Homo sapiens: one gene and its partners. The protein of the gene in region 3 interacts with the protein of the main gene of each other region in a pairwise test. Each region holds a gene or a part of one and is shown on either strand. Other genes may lie near its edges.

Evidence for each region. Proteins that work in one complex are often made in the same cells at the same time.
Region 1: the proteins of ETV5 (region 3) and COP1 interact in binary tests that used the Homo sapiens proteins (3 or more experiments, as listed by UniProt).
Region 2: the proteins of ETV5 (region 3) and AMH interact in a two-hybrid assay, tested with the Homo sapiens proteins (one large-scale study listed by BioGRID and IntAct).

Annotation. Positions count from the first base shown.
Region 1 is NC_000001.11:176,196,912-176,201,568, reverse strand, and holds part of COP1 (E3 ubiquitin-protein ligase COP1), read left to right. Parts: intron 1-4,657. UniProt on the Homo sapiens protein: E3 ubiquitin-protein ligase that mediates ubiquitination and subsequent proteasomal degradation of target proteins.
Region 2 is NC_000019.10:2,247,315-2,252,497, forward strand, and holds AMH (muellerian-inhibiting factor preproprotein), read left to right. Parts: upstream 1-2,008; 5' UTR 2,009-2,018; coding exon 2,019-2,430; intron 2,431-3,022; coding exon 3,023-3,165; intron 3,166-3,324; exon of another isoform or gene 3,325-3,337; coding exon 3,338-3,446; intron 3,447-3,534; coding exon 3,535-3,694; intron 3,695-3,784; coding exon 3,785-4,643; 3' UTR 4,644-4,759; downstream 4,760-5,183. Other genes in the region: SF3A2 (splicing factor 3A subunit 2), read left to right, coding at 280-348, 453-1,232; JSRP1 (junctional sarcoplasmic reticulum protein 1), read right to left, coding at 5,015-5,183. UniProt on the Homo sapiens protein: Plays an important role in several reproductive functions. Induces Muellerian duct regression during male fetal sexual differentiation. Also plays a role in Leydig cell differentiation and function.
Region 3 is NC_000003.12:186,098,468-186,103,124, reverse strand, and holds part of ETV5 (ETS translocation variant 5), read left to right. Parts: intron 1-4,657. UniProt on the Homo sapiens protein: Binds to DNA sequences containing the consensus nucleotide core sequence 5'-GGAA.-3'.

The DNA.
Region 1 (4,657 bases), on a different chromosome or scaffold from region 3:
GATAAGCAGTTATCTTTTCCTTTTACAAATCTTTATACCTTTTCTGATAATGAGCCAACATTACATAGGTGGATATGTTCCATCTAAGAACTGTTACTGATTAAAGTAACTGTAGCCTTAAACCTTGTTGCTTACTTTTCCTTCTTGTATGTGTATGTTTTTTCTTAATGGTGATTTTTTCATATTTTATATAATTATTTTAACCTGCTACCCTTTTCCTCAGAAAACTTCCACAGCTTGGGAGGAAAGGCTTTTTTGACGGTGGAATTAGCCCATCGTCTTTTTCCTGTTAAAATTTGTATTACAGGGTGAGTATCCTCTATCTGAAGTGCTTGAGACCAGAAGTGTTTTGGATTTTAGGGGTTTTTTTGGTTTTTGTTTTCGAATTTTAGAATATTTAAATTATATTTACCAGGTTAGTATCCTTAATCTGAAAAATCTGAAATCCAAAATGCTCCAGTGAGCATTTCCTCTGATAGTCATGTTGGCACTGAAAAAATTTTTGATTTTGCATGATTTTGGATTTCAGATTTTCAGATTAGGGATATTCAACCTGTATACCAAATAAAATGTTTTTTAAGTTGGGCATGATGGTGCATGCTTGTAGTCTCAGCTCCAGGAGTTTGAGTCCATCCTGGGCAATGTAGTGAAACTCTGCTAAATTGTTTTTAAAGTTCTTGATCTGTTTTTATATGTGATGTTGTATGTAGGACAAAATTCTGTAAGCATTCAGGTTTTTGTGCAGACTTGTCTTTGCCCTCCACCTTACTTGTTCTTTGTCCTCTTTCTTTATGTGTGTATGAGCCAAGTTCTATTCAGATAGGTTGGTACTTTCTCAAACAATATATTCACTGAGAGTAACATGTTTTTCTTTATACTTAAAATATGTTAGTTGTCCTTTCATTTTTCACAATTAAGTTTTATGAACTGATTTTGCCTCTGTTTCTATATAAAGTGAAACATAGAATGCAGTAGGTGATCTGATTTCTGTTTATTGTATTTCTGGTGTAACCATTGGGAATCCATCCTTCTTTCCTAATCTGTGTGGTTTGGGGTGGTACATTTTTTCCCCAAATTCAGAATTGGAACACATGATCCATGCTCAAGTGTCTAGTGCATTGGAATCCTCTGTCTTTAGTATTAATTCACAGATGGGCATTTGGCTCTAAATAGAGATAATGAGACAAAGTAGGCTTTGTAAAAATTACGACTGTTTTGGGGGTTCTTTTAGATATTTGAAACTCAAACGTTCATAAATGCCAAGTCCACTCAAGTGAAGATGGAATGTGTTGTACTGACAATTAGTTTGGGACAAATACTCATAATAATAAGTGCTCAAATATAAATTGCTATTTGCCAGGCACTATTTTAAAGGTTTTACGTTACTTGTTTAATCTTCACAACAACTGTTTGCTGTAGATACTCTTATAGTTCCCATTTTGTAGATGAGGAAATGTGGCCCATAGAGGTTATATAACTTGTCTCAGTTACACGGTTAATAATGGTGGTACCAGTATTTATATTCAGACAATTTGGCTCAGAGGTCAGGTTCTTAACCACTATTACAAATGGTTACCCAAGTTAACCACCCATTTCCTTGCCTTTATTTAGAGGCTGATTTTGTTTAAAATTAGCTTTACTAAGTTATAATTTGCATAAAATAAGTCACTGGTCATAAGTGTGTAGTTGAATGAGTTTTGACACATGAATACACCTGTGCAGTCACCACCCTAATGAAGATATGATACATTTCCAGAAAGTTCACTTTTGCCAGCACTTCATACTCTGTGTCTACCTTCACACCTAACACCTGGCAACCAGTGATCTGCTTTGCATTGCTGTCATTTTGCCTTTTCTGGAATTTCATATTAATGGAGTCCTTTAGTCGGTAGTCTTTTGTGTCTGGTTTCTTTCGTTTGGTATAATGTTTTGAAATACACTGATGATGTTGAGTGTACTGTTTTTTTTCTTTTAATTGCTTAGTATTATCCCATTATATGGATATAACATGAACTGCTTATATATTTGCTAGTTAAAAGATTTTTGACTTGTTTCTAGTTTTTGGCTATTATTTAGAAAATTCTGTAAGCATTCAGGTTTTTGTGCAGACACGTCTTCACATTTTTAGGGTAAAAATATCTAGTAGTGAATTGCTGAGTTCTCTGCCAAGTGTATGTTTAGTTTTAAAATAAACTGCAAAACTTTTTAAAAACTGCCTCTACCATTTTGCATTTCTTTTTTATCTTTTTTTGAGATGGGAGTCTCATACTGTCGCCCCAGCTGGAGTGCAGTGGCACGATCTCAGCTTGGTGCAACCTCTGCCTCCTGGGTTCAAGCAATTCTCCTGCCTTAACCTCCCGAGTAGCTAGGATTACAGGCGCCCGCCACCATGCCAAGCTAATTTTTTGTATTTTTAGTAGAGATGGGGTTTCACTGTGTTGGCCGGGTTGGTCTCGATCCCTGGACCTCATGGTCCCCACGCCTCGGCCTCCCAAAGTGCTGGGATTACAGGTGTGAGCCACCACACCCGGCCACCATTTTGCATTTCTACCAGCAACAATTAAAAGTTCTTTTATTTGGTTTGTATTTATTTCTTGTATTGTTTTATTTGTTTTTAATTGTTTCACATCCTTGCCAGTGCTCAGTGTTTTCAGTCTTTTAAATATTAGTCATTTTTGTGGATATGTAGTTTTATCACATTGTTATGTAACATATTTTTATGTGCTTATTTTTCATTTGCATATCTTTTGTGAAATGTCTGTTTTGATCTTTGGCCCATTTTTTCCCTTAAAATTGCATGTCATCTTGCGTTGTAAGTGTTCTTTATGTATTCTGCATACATCTTTTGTCAGACCTGTGTATTGTGGTATTTTCTCTTAGTCTGTTGCTTATCTTTTCATTTTCTTAATAATTTTTTAAAGTGCAAAAGTTTTTTCTTTTTTCTAATGTATCGATAAAGTTTTCAGTTTTAAGTCCAAATTGATTTTTATTATTTTTAATTTTTGTGTTCTAGCTAAGAAGTTATCTAACATGAAATTAGAAAACATTCTCTTGTATATTTTCTACTAGAAGATTTATAGTTTTCTTATGGTTATGATCCACTTCAAGTTAGTTTTTATACACTGTGTTTGGTAAGGGTTGAAGGCTTCATTAATATTATAACATCATTTGTTGAAAAGATCATCTCTGTTCATTGAATTTTCTTGGCACCTTTCTCAAAAATTAACCATATATATGAGTTTATTTCTGCAATTTTTATTCTGTCCCGTTGGTGTATATATGTTTATCCCTACACAAGTGCCACACTGTTTTGATTATGGTATTATTATAGTACATCTTGAAATCAGGTAGTGTAATTTTTATCCTTTATTTCAAAGTTGTTTTGATTATTTATGTTCTTTGCATTTCCACATAAATCTTAGGATTAGCGTGCCAATTTCTATAAAAAAGGATGTAGGATTTTAATGTTGGTTACTTTGAATCTGTGATTTCATTTGGGAAGATGACATCTTAATATTATCTTTTGAATCATGAACATAGTATATTTCTCCAATTATTTAGGTCCTCTGTAATTTCTCTTAGCAGTGTTTATGCTTTTCAGTTGAGGTTTTTCACCATATTTTTAAAATTTACCCCTAAGTATTTTATGTTTTTGATGGTGTTCTAAATGTTGTTCTTTTAATTTCGATTTCTAATTGTTGCTAGTATGTAAATACACTTTTTTTATGTTGACCTTGTATTTTATGAAATTTTAAGTTTACTTACTAGTTCTAATAATTTTTTGGTAGAACCTATAGGATTTGTAAGAAAACAGTCATGTTATCTGTATATGAATATACTTTTACATCTTTTAAATTTATATGCCCTATTTAAAGAACGTACGTTAATGGATTTATTTGATTGGGTAATTGTTTAAAAGGATTTTTTGGACCTTTATTAGTGAGTGATACTGGTCTGTGAATTTCTTTTAATTTTTTTCTGGTTTTCATATCACAGTGTATTGGTTTGCTTGGGCTGCCGTAACAAAATACAACAGACTAGGTGGCTTAAACAACAGAAATTTATTTTCTCATAGGTCTAGAGACTAGAAGTACAAAACAATGTGTAGGCAGATTCGGTTTCTTCTGAGGCCTGTTTCCTTTCTTTTTTTCAAAAGAGGTGGTCTTGCTGTCTCGCCCAAGCTGGAGTACAGTGGCACCATCACACTGCTTACTGCATCCTCGAACTTCTGGGCCCAAGGGATCCTCCTCCCTCATCTTCCTAGTAGCTGGCTCTACAGGCATGTGTCACCACACCTGGATAATTTTTATAAGTTTTTAATAGAGATGAGGGTCTTGCCATCTTGCCTAGGTTGGGCCACTTGTTGTTGTGTCATAGCTTTGTCACCTCTCAGTCTGCATGTTGCCTGTATCTTAGAAGAATACTGGTTGTATTGGATTGGGGTCCACCAATATGACTGTATTTTACCTTGATTATTTCTTTAAAGGCTTTATTTTCAAATGCAAATTCTGAGATACTGGGAGTTAGAATATAGGGATTTTCTTTTGCGAGGGATGGAAATACAATTTAACCCGTAACATAGGTATTATTGCTGGTTTCACTTTTTCTTTCCCTCCCTCCCTCCCTCCTGCTGGTTTCACTCTTTCTTTCTTTCTCT
Region 2 (5,183 bases), on a different chromosome or scaffold from region 3:
TTCCTACAGCCTGTCCCCATGCCTGGACAGGGCGGCCATCAGGAAACAAATAATACAAACGGTGACTGCCCAGGGAGGGGGCCAACAGCGTGCTAGCATTGAGGCCAGGTCTGTTTCACTCCAGAACTGAACCCTGTGCCCCACGAAAGTCTTACCAGCCTTCTCCTGGGCTCCCAGGGTAGAGTCCGGGCTGGGGAGGCTAGTGCCTCGGGCTCCCTGCCTGATGGTCGCCCTGAGGTCACAGGGACCAGGAGCCCTCTCTGTCCCCCGCCCTCCCAGGTGCCGAGCAGAGAGATCGACAAGGCGGAGGGCAAGTTCTGGACACACTGGAACCGGGAGACCAAGCAGGTGAGTGGCTCGCCCCGAGCCTGGCTCCTTCCCACCCAGCCCTGGCGGCCCTAGCCCTGCCCTAGCCCCACCCGTGCCTGCTGAACCTTTCTCCGTCTCTCTAGTTCTTCCTCCAGTTCCACTTTAAGATGGAGAAGCCCCCGGCTCCACCCAGCCTCCCTGCTGGCCCCCCTGGGGTGAAGCGGCCTCCACCCCCGCTGATGAACGGTCTGCCCCCTCGGCCACCGCTGCCTGAGTCTTTGCCACCGCCCCCGCCAGGAGGCCTGCCTCTGCCACCCATGCCCCCCACAGGGCCTGCGCCCTCAGGGCCCCCGGGACCACCCCAGCTACCCCCGCCAGCTCCAGGGGTCCACCCCCCGGCCCCAGTGGTGCATCCCCCTGCATCTGGGGTCCATCCCCCAGCTCCTGGCGTCCACCCCCCAGCTCCTGGCGTCCATCCCCCAGCCCCTGGGGTCCACCCACCAACCTCTGGGGTCCACCCCCCAGCTCCTGGAGTCCACCCTCCAGCCCCCGGGGTTCACCCACCAGCCCCCGGAGTCCACCCACCAGCCCCTGGGGTTCACCCACCAGCCCCAGGGGTCCATCCTCCCCCATCAGCGGGGGTTCACCCCCAGGCCCCGGGGGTGCACCCAGCAGCCCCCGCCGTTCACCCTCAGGCCCCAGGGGTGCACCCACCAGCCCCAGGGATGCACCCTCAGGCCCCGGGGGTCCACCCCCAACCTCCCGGGGTCCATCCGTCGGCTCCTGGGGTCCACCCTCAGCCTCCGGGAGTTCACCCCTCAAATCCTGGGGTGCACCCCCCAACTCCCATGCCCCCAATGCTGAGGCCCCCACTTCCCTCCGAAGGCCCAGGGAACATACCTCCCCCTCCCCCAACCAACTGAGAAGCTGCTCCCTCCCCCAGCAAGCCCAGCGCCAGGTGCTCTTGCCTTTTCCCACTGAGAGAAGGCTGCTCTTTTGTACTGCCCCCCGCTCATTAAACAGCCTCCCCCAGCCCTGAGTGCACTGATGTCCGCAGCGCCGCCCTACTGTGTCAGTGTGTGTGGGAGTGCCAGGCACAGCACCATCCCCCAGTTTGGGCCGACTGGGGAGGGCCTGGGGCCCGCCAGGAGACACCTGTGGGAGGCCTGAGAGATGGCTGTACCTTGGAGATGGCCTGGTGGAGGACAGACCCCACCAGCCAGCTAGGAGGGGATCTGGGGTCCTGTTCTGGGGAGGGAAGAGCAGACTCCACGATATCCTTGGGGTCTCCAGATAGCCCACCAGGGGTGGGGAGGGTGAGCAGGGACAGGGCGCCCCCACTGACTTGGGACCCTCCTCCTCCAGGCCCACACCTCAGCACCCAGGACATCTGGGCCCCCCGCCCCCAGCGCTGTCTAGTTTGGTTGCCTGGCCGTCACTCCCAGCCTGGTTCCCACTCCTGTGTCTTCTGGGGATGGCCCTCAAGGACGGCATGTTGACACATCAGGCCCAGCTCTATCACTGGGGAGGGAGATAGGCTGCCAGGGACAGAAAGGGCTCTTTGAGAAGGCCACTCTGCCTGGAGTGGGGGCGCCGGGCACTGTCCCCCAAGGTCGCGGCAGAGGAGATAGGGGTCTGTCCTGCACAAACACCCCACCTTCCACTCGGCTCACTTAAGGCAGGCAGCCCAGCCCCTGGCAGCACCCACGATGCGGGACCTGCCTCTCACCAGCCTGGCCCTAGTGCTGTCTGCCCTGGGGGCTCTGCTGGGGACTGAGGCCCTCAGAGCAGAGGAGCCAGCTGTGGGCACCAGTGGCCTCATCTTCCGAGAAGACTTGGACTGGCCTCCAGGCAGCCCACAAGAGCCTCTGTGCCTGGTGGCACTGGGCGGGGACAGCAATGGCAGCAGCTCCCCCCTGCGGGTGGTGGGGGCTCTAAGCGCCTATGAGCAGGCCTTCCTGGGGGCCGTGCAGAGGGCCCGCTGGGGCCCCCGAGACCTGGCCACCTTCGGGGTCTGCAACACCGGTGACAGGCAGGCTGCCTTGCCCTCTCTACGGCGGCTGGGGGCCTGGCTGCGGGACCCTGGGGGGCAGCGCCTGGTGGTCCTACACCTGGAGGAAGGTATGTGGGGCCCAGCCCCAAGCTTGGCACCGCCGTCTTCCTTCAGGTGGGCCGGGTCCTCCTAGGGAAGATCAGGGGCTGGCAGAGCCCCCACCCTGGGCAGGGAGGCTGTGGTCTTGTTCCTAGGACTGGGTTGCGGGTCCGTGGCCTGGAAGGTGGGCACCACACTCTGTCCTGTCCCCGAAGCCCAGCTCTTAGACTTGCCCCTGCCTCGGTGCCAGGGAGAGAGCTGCTGCCTTCTCCCCACCCCTGAAGACGACGCAGGGCTCGGGGCCAGTGGAACCCTTCTTCCCACAGCCCCAGCCTGTTCTCAGGGCCGCTGGCCTAAGATACTCCCTGCGGGGAAGGGGCTTCATCGGGCACCCCAACCCAGAGACCCCAGGGCGGCAGCCCCACCCACAGCCTCAGACGCAGCCCCTGCCTGCCCCTGCCGTCACCGCTCCCTGGCTGCAGGAAGGCAGCTAAGAGGGGCACCCTTGTCCCCCGCTTGAGGTCCCCTGCACAGTGGCCAGAGCGGCAGGGACAGATCCCAAAGATTCCCGGGGGGTGTGGCCTTCAATGGCTCAGGCGTCCCCTGCTGTCCCGGCTGCAGTGACCTGGGAGCCAACACCCTCGCTGAGGTTCCAGGAGCCCCCGCCTGGAGGAGCTGGCCCCCCAGAGCTGGCGCTGCTGGTGCTGTACCCTGGGCCTGGCCCTGAGGTCACTGTGACGAGGGCTGGGCTGCCGGGTGCCCAGGTACCAGGGAGTTGCATGGGGCAGTGCCCGGGCCGTGGCGGGGGGCATGGATTTGTTGCAGGGTCTGCAGTACTGAGAACAGCGTAGAACCAGTGGCGATGGGAGGAAGGGGACCGGTAGAGCGGGGCTGGGTAAGCCTCCATCCAGCCGGGCTGAGCCCTGGTCTCCGCAGAGCCTCTGCCCCTCCCGAGACACCCGCTACCTGGTGTTAGCGGTGGACCGCCCTGCGGGGGCCTGGCGCGGCTCCGGGCTGGCCTTGACCCTGCAGCCCCGCGGAGAGGGTAGGTCCGCGTGGAGAGGGACGGGGAGCCGGGTCGACTGCCCCCGGGCCCCCAGCCCCTGAGCCAGCCGCGTGCCCACCCACCGCAGACTCCCGGCTGAGTACCGCCCGGCTGCAGGCACTGCTGTTCGGCGACGACCACCGCTGCTTCACACGGATGACCCCGGCCCTGCTCCTGCTGCCGCGGTCCGAGCCCGCGCCGCTGCCTGCGCACGGCCAGCTGGACACCGTGCCCTTCCCGCCGCCCAGGTGCGCGCAGGCACCGGGACACGGGGCAGGAGCGGGCGGGGGCGGCGTGGCCTCGTGGCCGCTCTCAACTCCTCCAATTGCGGGTTCCAGGCCATCCGCGGAACTCGAGGAGTCGCCACCCAGCGCAGACCCCTTCCTGGAGACGCTCACGCGCCTGGTGCGGGCGCTGCGGGTCCCCCCGGCCCGGGCCTCCGCGCCGCGCCTGGCCCTGGATCCGGACGCGCTGGCCGGCTTCCCGCAGGGCCTAGTCAACCTGTCGGACCCCGCGGCGCTGGAGCGCCTACTCGACGGCGAGGAGCCGCTGCTGCTGCTGCTGAGGCCCACTGCGGCCACCACCGGGGATCCTGCGCCCCTGCACGACCCCACGTCGGCGCCGTGGGCCACGGCCCTGGCGCGCCGCGTGGCTGCTGAACTGCAAGCGGCGGCTGCCGAGCTGCGAAGCCTCCCGGGTCTGCCTCCGGCCACAGCCCCGCTGCTGGCGCGCCTGCTCGCGCTCTGCCCAGGTGGCCCCGGCGGCCTCGGCGATCCCCTGCGAGCGCTGCTGCTCCTGAAGGCGCTGCAGGGCCTGCGCGTGGAGTGGCGCGGGCGGGATCCGCGCGGGCCGGGTCGGGCACAGCGCAGCGCGGGGGCCACCGCCGCCGACGGGCCGTGCGCGCTGCGCGAGCTCAGCGTAGACCTCCGCGCCGAGCGCTCCGTACTCATCCCCGAGACCTACCAGGCCAACAATTGCCAGGGCGTGTGCGGCTGGCCTCAGTCCGACCGCAACCCGCGCTACGGCAACCACGTGGTGCTGCTGCTGAAGATGCAGGTCCGTGGGGCCGCCCTGGCGCGCCCACCCTGCTGCGTGCCCACCGCCTACGCGGGCAAGCTGCTCATCAGCCTGTCGGAGGAGCGCATCAGCGCGCACCACGTGCCCAACATGGTGGCCACCGAGTGTGGCTGCCGGTGACCCCTGCGCCGCGCGGACTCCTGCCCCGAGGGTCCGGACGCGCCCCAGCTCGCGCCCCTTCCCATATTTATTCGGACCCCAAGCATCGCCCCAATAAAGACCAGCAAGCAACCGGCTGGGGTGTCCGTGCGTGTTAGGGGGCCCGTGGGACCTCCCTTGCCGTCTCTCCTCGCGCACGGCCCGGGTCCGCCCTGTAGCGCTCGCTGTCTCTCCCCTGCCTGAAGCGCCCCACCACCGTCTTTCAGGCCCCGGACTTGGTGCCGGGTCCAGGCGTAAAGGAGCAGGTGACTCTGCGGCCGCAGCACTCGCTTTATTTCGCCAGAGTCGCGGGGCGTCCAGAAGGGGCCCCTGGACTCCGGCGCGGGGCCGGCTCAGTCCCGCCCCTTGCCTGCGCGGAGCTTCTGGCGACTCCCAGGCCGCTGCTCCTCGTCGGGACGCCTCGGGGACACCCAGGCCTGCTTCTTCCTGGGCTCGGCGTCCCTGGAGTCCCGTGCCCACGGCCGGTGGCCCCCTTCGCGTGACTCCCAGCGCTGGGGTAGG
Region 3 (4,657 bases):
TGTCTTTTAAGGATAAAAGAGATGGTTGACTAGCCTAGAAAAGGTCTTCTAATGATTCTTTCCCTCTGACTTTATTTCTTGAGGTAGAGCTTCAAGAAGGGATAGATTCAAATAGAATAACTTGCTTAAGAAGCAAGGCAAGAACACAAATGTGGGTGGTGCATCTTTGAGCCATTCATTCTTGCAAAAGCAAGTTTGTTTGCCTGCAGTTCAGACCAACAGCCAGAAGCATGAGGAGGAGCTGGCAGAGCCCACAGCCGGCTGCATGCACTTACTTTTCCATGAGCGCTTTCCACAGCCTCGAGTTCAGGACCAGCTTCACTCCAGTCATTTTCTGGAAGAGCTCGTGATTTTTTTCAGGGGAGGGAAGAAAACTCATTCAAATTTAATGAAACCTTATGAGTTGGTTTGACTCACTTAACCAATGAATATAAGCCAAACTTAGATTTGCCAGGGGAAAGCAAACCTTTTTTTTTTTTTTTTTTTTTGGAGAGAGAGTTTTGCTCGTCACCCAGGCCAGAGTGCAATGGCGCAATCTCGGCCCACTTACTGGGATGTCCACGTCCCAGGTTCGAGCAATTCTCCTGCCTAAGCCTCCCGAGTAGCTGGGATTACAGGCACCTGCCACCATGCCTGGCTAATTTTTGTATTTTTAGTAGAGACGGGGCTTCACCATGTTTGCCAGGCTGGTCTTGAACTCCTGACCTCAGGTGATCCGCCCACCTTAGCCTCCCAGAGTGCTGGAATTACAGGCGTGAGCCACTGTGCCCGGCCTGTAACAAATATTCTTACCAGTGGCCACTGGTAATACACTTTCCTATTAATAATGATTTGATAATTTTCCATTGTATATGTGTAAATTTATTGTATACATGAAAGAAAGAGAAATACTAAGAAATGTAGGTAATATTTTTATTTTGGAATGTCAGTTTTAAAGATTATGGCTTTTTTTTTTCTCTAAACACTAAAAGTTCAACTTCTAAAGAGATTATATTTTGTAAGTTTCTTAGAATTGGGTTTCCTGCCCATAGGGATACATCCTTAAGTCTGATTTGAGTGAATGAAACCATTGCTTTTATATCTTATAGAAATGCCCAGCTTACTTCTAGCTGTACAGATTTCACCTCTACCTCACACATATAGATATCAGTAAAGCATGGAGACTCTGAAAGGTCAAATTCAAGGGAATAGAAATCTATAGATCATAGGGATTCTACCAGTGGACCTCATTGTCCCTTGGTCCTAAGAAGTAACTCTGAAGATCTCAGATTGCTTGAGTTGGATGTCCTTTGTAGAGACAAGCTTGCCCAGCCCCCTCCTTTCACAGCTATTCCCAAATAGCTGAAGAGACTGACCAGTAGTGGGGGCAGATGGGAAGGTTTAGGTGAAGTAAGAGGAAGATGTATAAAATAATATTCTTAAAGAAGCTCTCACAAAGCTGCAGAGCCAGGGAGTAGTGGCATATTCAAGTGTATTCAGGGTCTCCATTATTTCAGATACCTGGAGATGGTGTTCAGGAAAGCATCTGGGAGGCCTCTGGCTGTCCAATTCAGCACTCACTTCTCTTCCTTCTATGATCCTGAGAAAGTTACTCAATACCTTCATGCTTTGAGTTTTTCCATCTAGGATTTGGAAGACAGAGAGTAATTATAAAAGAAAAAAATTATAAAAAACTGACATATTTAGGCTCACACCTGTAACCTCAGTGCTTTAGGAGGCCAAGTCGGGAGGATCTCTTGAGCCTAGGAGTTCGAGGTTACAGTTGAAGCGAGTAGTGATCACACCACTGTACCCCAGCCTAGGTACCAGAGCAAGACCCTATCTCTAAAAAACGAAAACAAAAGAAAACTGCCATGTTTCCTAGAAGACACCTTTCGTGTGTATACAGATAAAACTGTGTACATATTTCCTATATATGAAAAAGTGTTTGTGCATGTGTATATATCTATGTAACTGTGTATGTAGCTAAATGTGTACCTTAACACATAGAGCGGCTAAACCAGGGAATCTGGGTCAGTGCATAGATGTATGTACATATTTACTACACATTTTCATAGAACTAACTATGCCATGGATAAGATTGGAACTCAAGAGTGTTTCAAAGTCGGGGTAAGGTGATGTGTTCCATTCATTTTTCTGAACTGACTGGGTACTTAAAGAGTGTGTTACTAGATTTTAGCATATATAAATAGCAGTTTTTTAAATATACATTTTGGGTCTGATTTTTAATCTCACTTATTAATTTCAGTTATGATATTATAAATATATACCTGTTAGCATCTTGAATAACTAAGATATTTTATGCTGAGTAGAGAGCATGATAAAAATCTTATTTCAAAGTCATGGCCTCCATACCAAATACAGCCTAGAGAATTGTTTTAAGATCCAAATGACCCCATTTTCCCCTTGAAGTGTTCTTTTTAGATCTGTGTTTCAAAGAGAATGGAACAACTGGAGGAAGTACAAGTAATTTCCTAAGGACCAGCTAATTAACTGATAAAATCGACTTTTCATAAATACATTGCAATAGACGGCTGGGGAAATAGGATTAACTGTTATGACAGCCCTTGAGCCTAAAACACATTGATCTTAATCCTGTTTCACGATGAGATTATTCAGCTGGATTTCTTTATTAATGTGTGAGTTTAGTACAGTAGAGGCAGTGCCTTTCCTTTGGAGAGGGTACATCATTTTGGTCTTTGGTCCTAGGTGTGGTGTAGCAAAACACCACGTTTTCTTGCTTGGGCCACCTCTATTCAAAAGGATCATCCTAAAGTCTTTTTGTTTGGCAAGGTAAGAAAGAAAACAGTGGGCACTTTAAAAATAAGAGGTTTGAGGGAAAACAAGGCCATTGGTTTATACTTTTCAGGAATCAGTAGTTCTGAAGGTAGAAAAGAATGCTGATGAAAGCGTGAGGAAAACATGGAGGAGAGATTCTTTGACTCCAGGTTTTACAGTGTTACTTTCAAAGTGTTTGTTAGTTAGCCCAGTACCTTACTGCTGGGAGGGTGCTAAATGATTTGAAATCCTTCCTGTTTTGATAGCCTCAAAGATTCTTAGACTCAGTATTCTGAAGGACCCAAGACCTACAGTACGCATTTACTTAAAGGAGCCATCTGTTTTACAAAATCTGCTTTCGTCTACCTTTAATTCAGTTAGGCTTATTTAAAACTGAATTTTTCTCTTACCCTTCTGTGTCTCTGCGCTGTTAGTCATCTAACAAAACCCAGTAGGCTTACCAGTCCTTTGTATTTGGTGAGAAAGATTTGGGACGGGGAGTTACATCTGTGTCAAGATCACTTGTGTAGGTGCCAGAAGTAACAAAATCCTGGCATCCATGAAGAAATTACCATTTATCCCCTCCTCTTTCAGCATTCTTCAGTTTTACAGGAGTAAGGCATGGGTAGCATAATGAAGCCGAAAATGTGTACTGTCTCCCATTTCTACCATCTAGTAGTATCATTGTTTTAATTTCAGCCCTAGAAAAAAATGTTTCTTGGTGGTGGGGTGGGGTGTGTGATTCTCTGCCGAGAAACTGTTCCCTCCACACATTTCTTGGGTTTTAGTGGTGGTAAAGTACATCCAGCCTCAGAGGCTGACAGCCCCCTCTCGGGCATACGGCTGCCCTTGAGGCAGCTTGGGCCCCATCTGTGCCCTGGCACACAGTGCTTCTCCACTTGGAATCCAAGGAGCTCAGAGGCTTGTCATGTTGCAGCTCCCAGCTCTTGGACAAGTGCCAGGCATGCTGATGCCATTACCGGATTAGGTTGCTTTTTTAAAAATTCATTTTGTGAACTCATCAAGCTCATTTAACAGAGGCTTTGGTCGTCAGTTTCTATCATTGTCCTATCCCTCTAGGCTTGGCTTAAAGGAGTGGCAAGATACCAGGCCCCTAGTATGTGCCGGCACTAGTTAGAGTGTGTATGTATAAATTATAACCATAATGTAAGTACACCTTTGGGCCTGGCAGGCAAATGACAGTGGGTTAGCAACTCAGATGTTAAAGGGAAAAGAATTCCCCGTAAGAGGACTCTGCATAGAAAATAAAGGGGGCTCCCTTGTTTAAAAAGAAAGAAGCATCTAGGGGAAAATTGAAGCAGAGAGTGCAAGATTCCAGGGAGCAGGATAAGATCTAGTTATTAAAAGGCCAGGAGTTTGAGGCTGATCTGAACAGCCGAGGCATGGAATGGGGATTCTGTGGTCAGAAGGACTTCAGAGAAATGCTTCCAGTGGCACTGAGTTCGCTGGAGGGGACATGAGGGCAGGCAGTGAGAAGAAGCATACATAAGACATTTGAAAATAGCCAAATATGTGATGAAAAAAAGGAAACAACCATGAGCTAAAATTTATCTCCTGGATTTGCTTTTCATAAAGAAGTATGCTTTTCCTTGAAATAAAGTCTGGTTGTCAGACGGGCTCCATCCGCTTTCCCTCAGGGTGATTATTGAAGGTTTGGAAAAAATATCTAAGAAGCAAAGCCAGTTTTTTTTGCCTTGTACTTTGCAAAGTCTCGGCGTAGATTTCACCCTCCAACCTTAGATCTCCACATTCTTCCCTTTTGATGTCTCATGAGCATTCAGGAGGGTATTCTGAACTCTTCAGGCTGGATCCAAAGCCAAAAAAGGAACTGTGAAATTGTCTTAATAGGTAGCTTGTC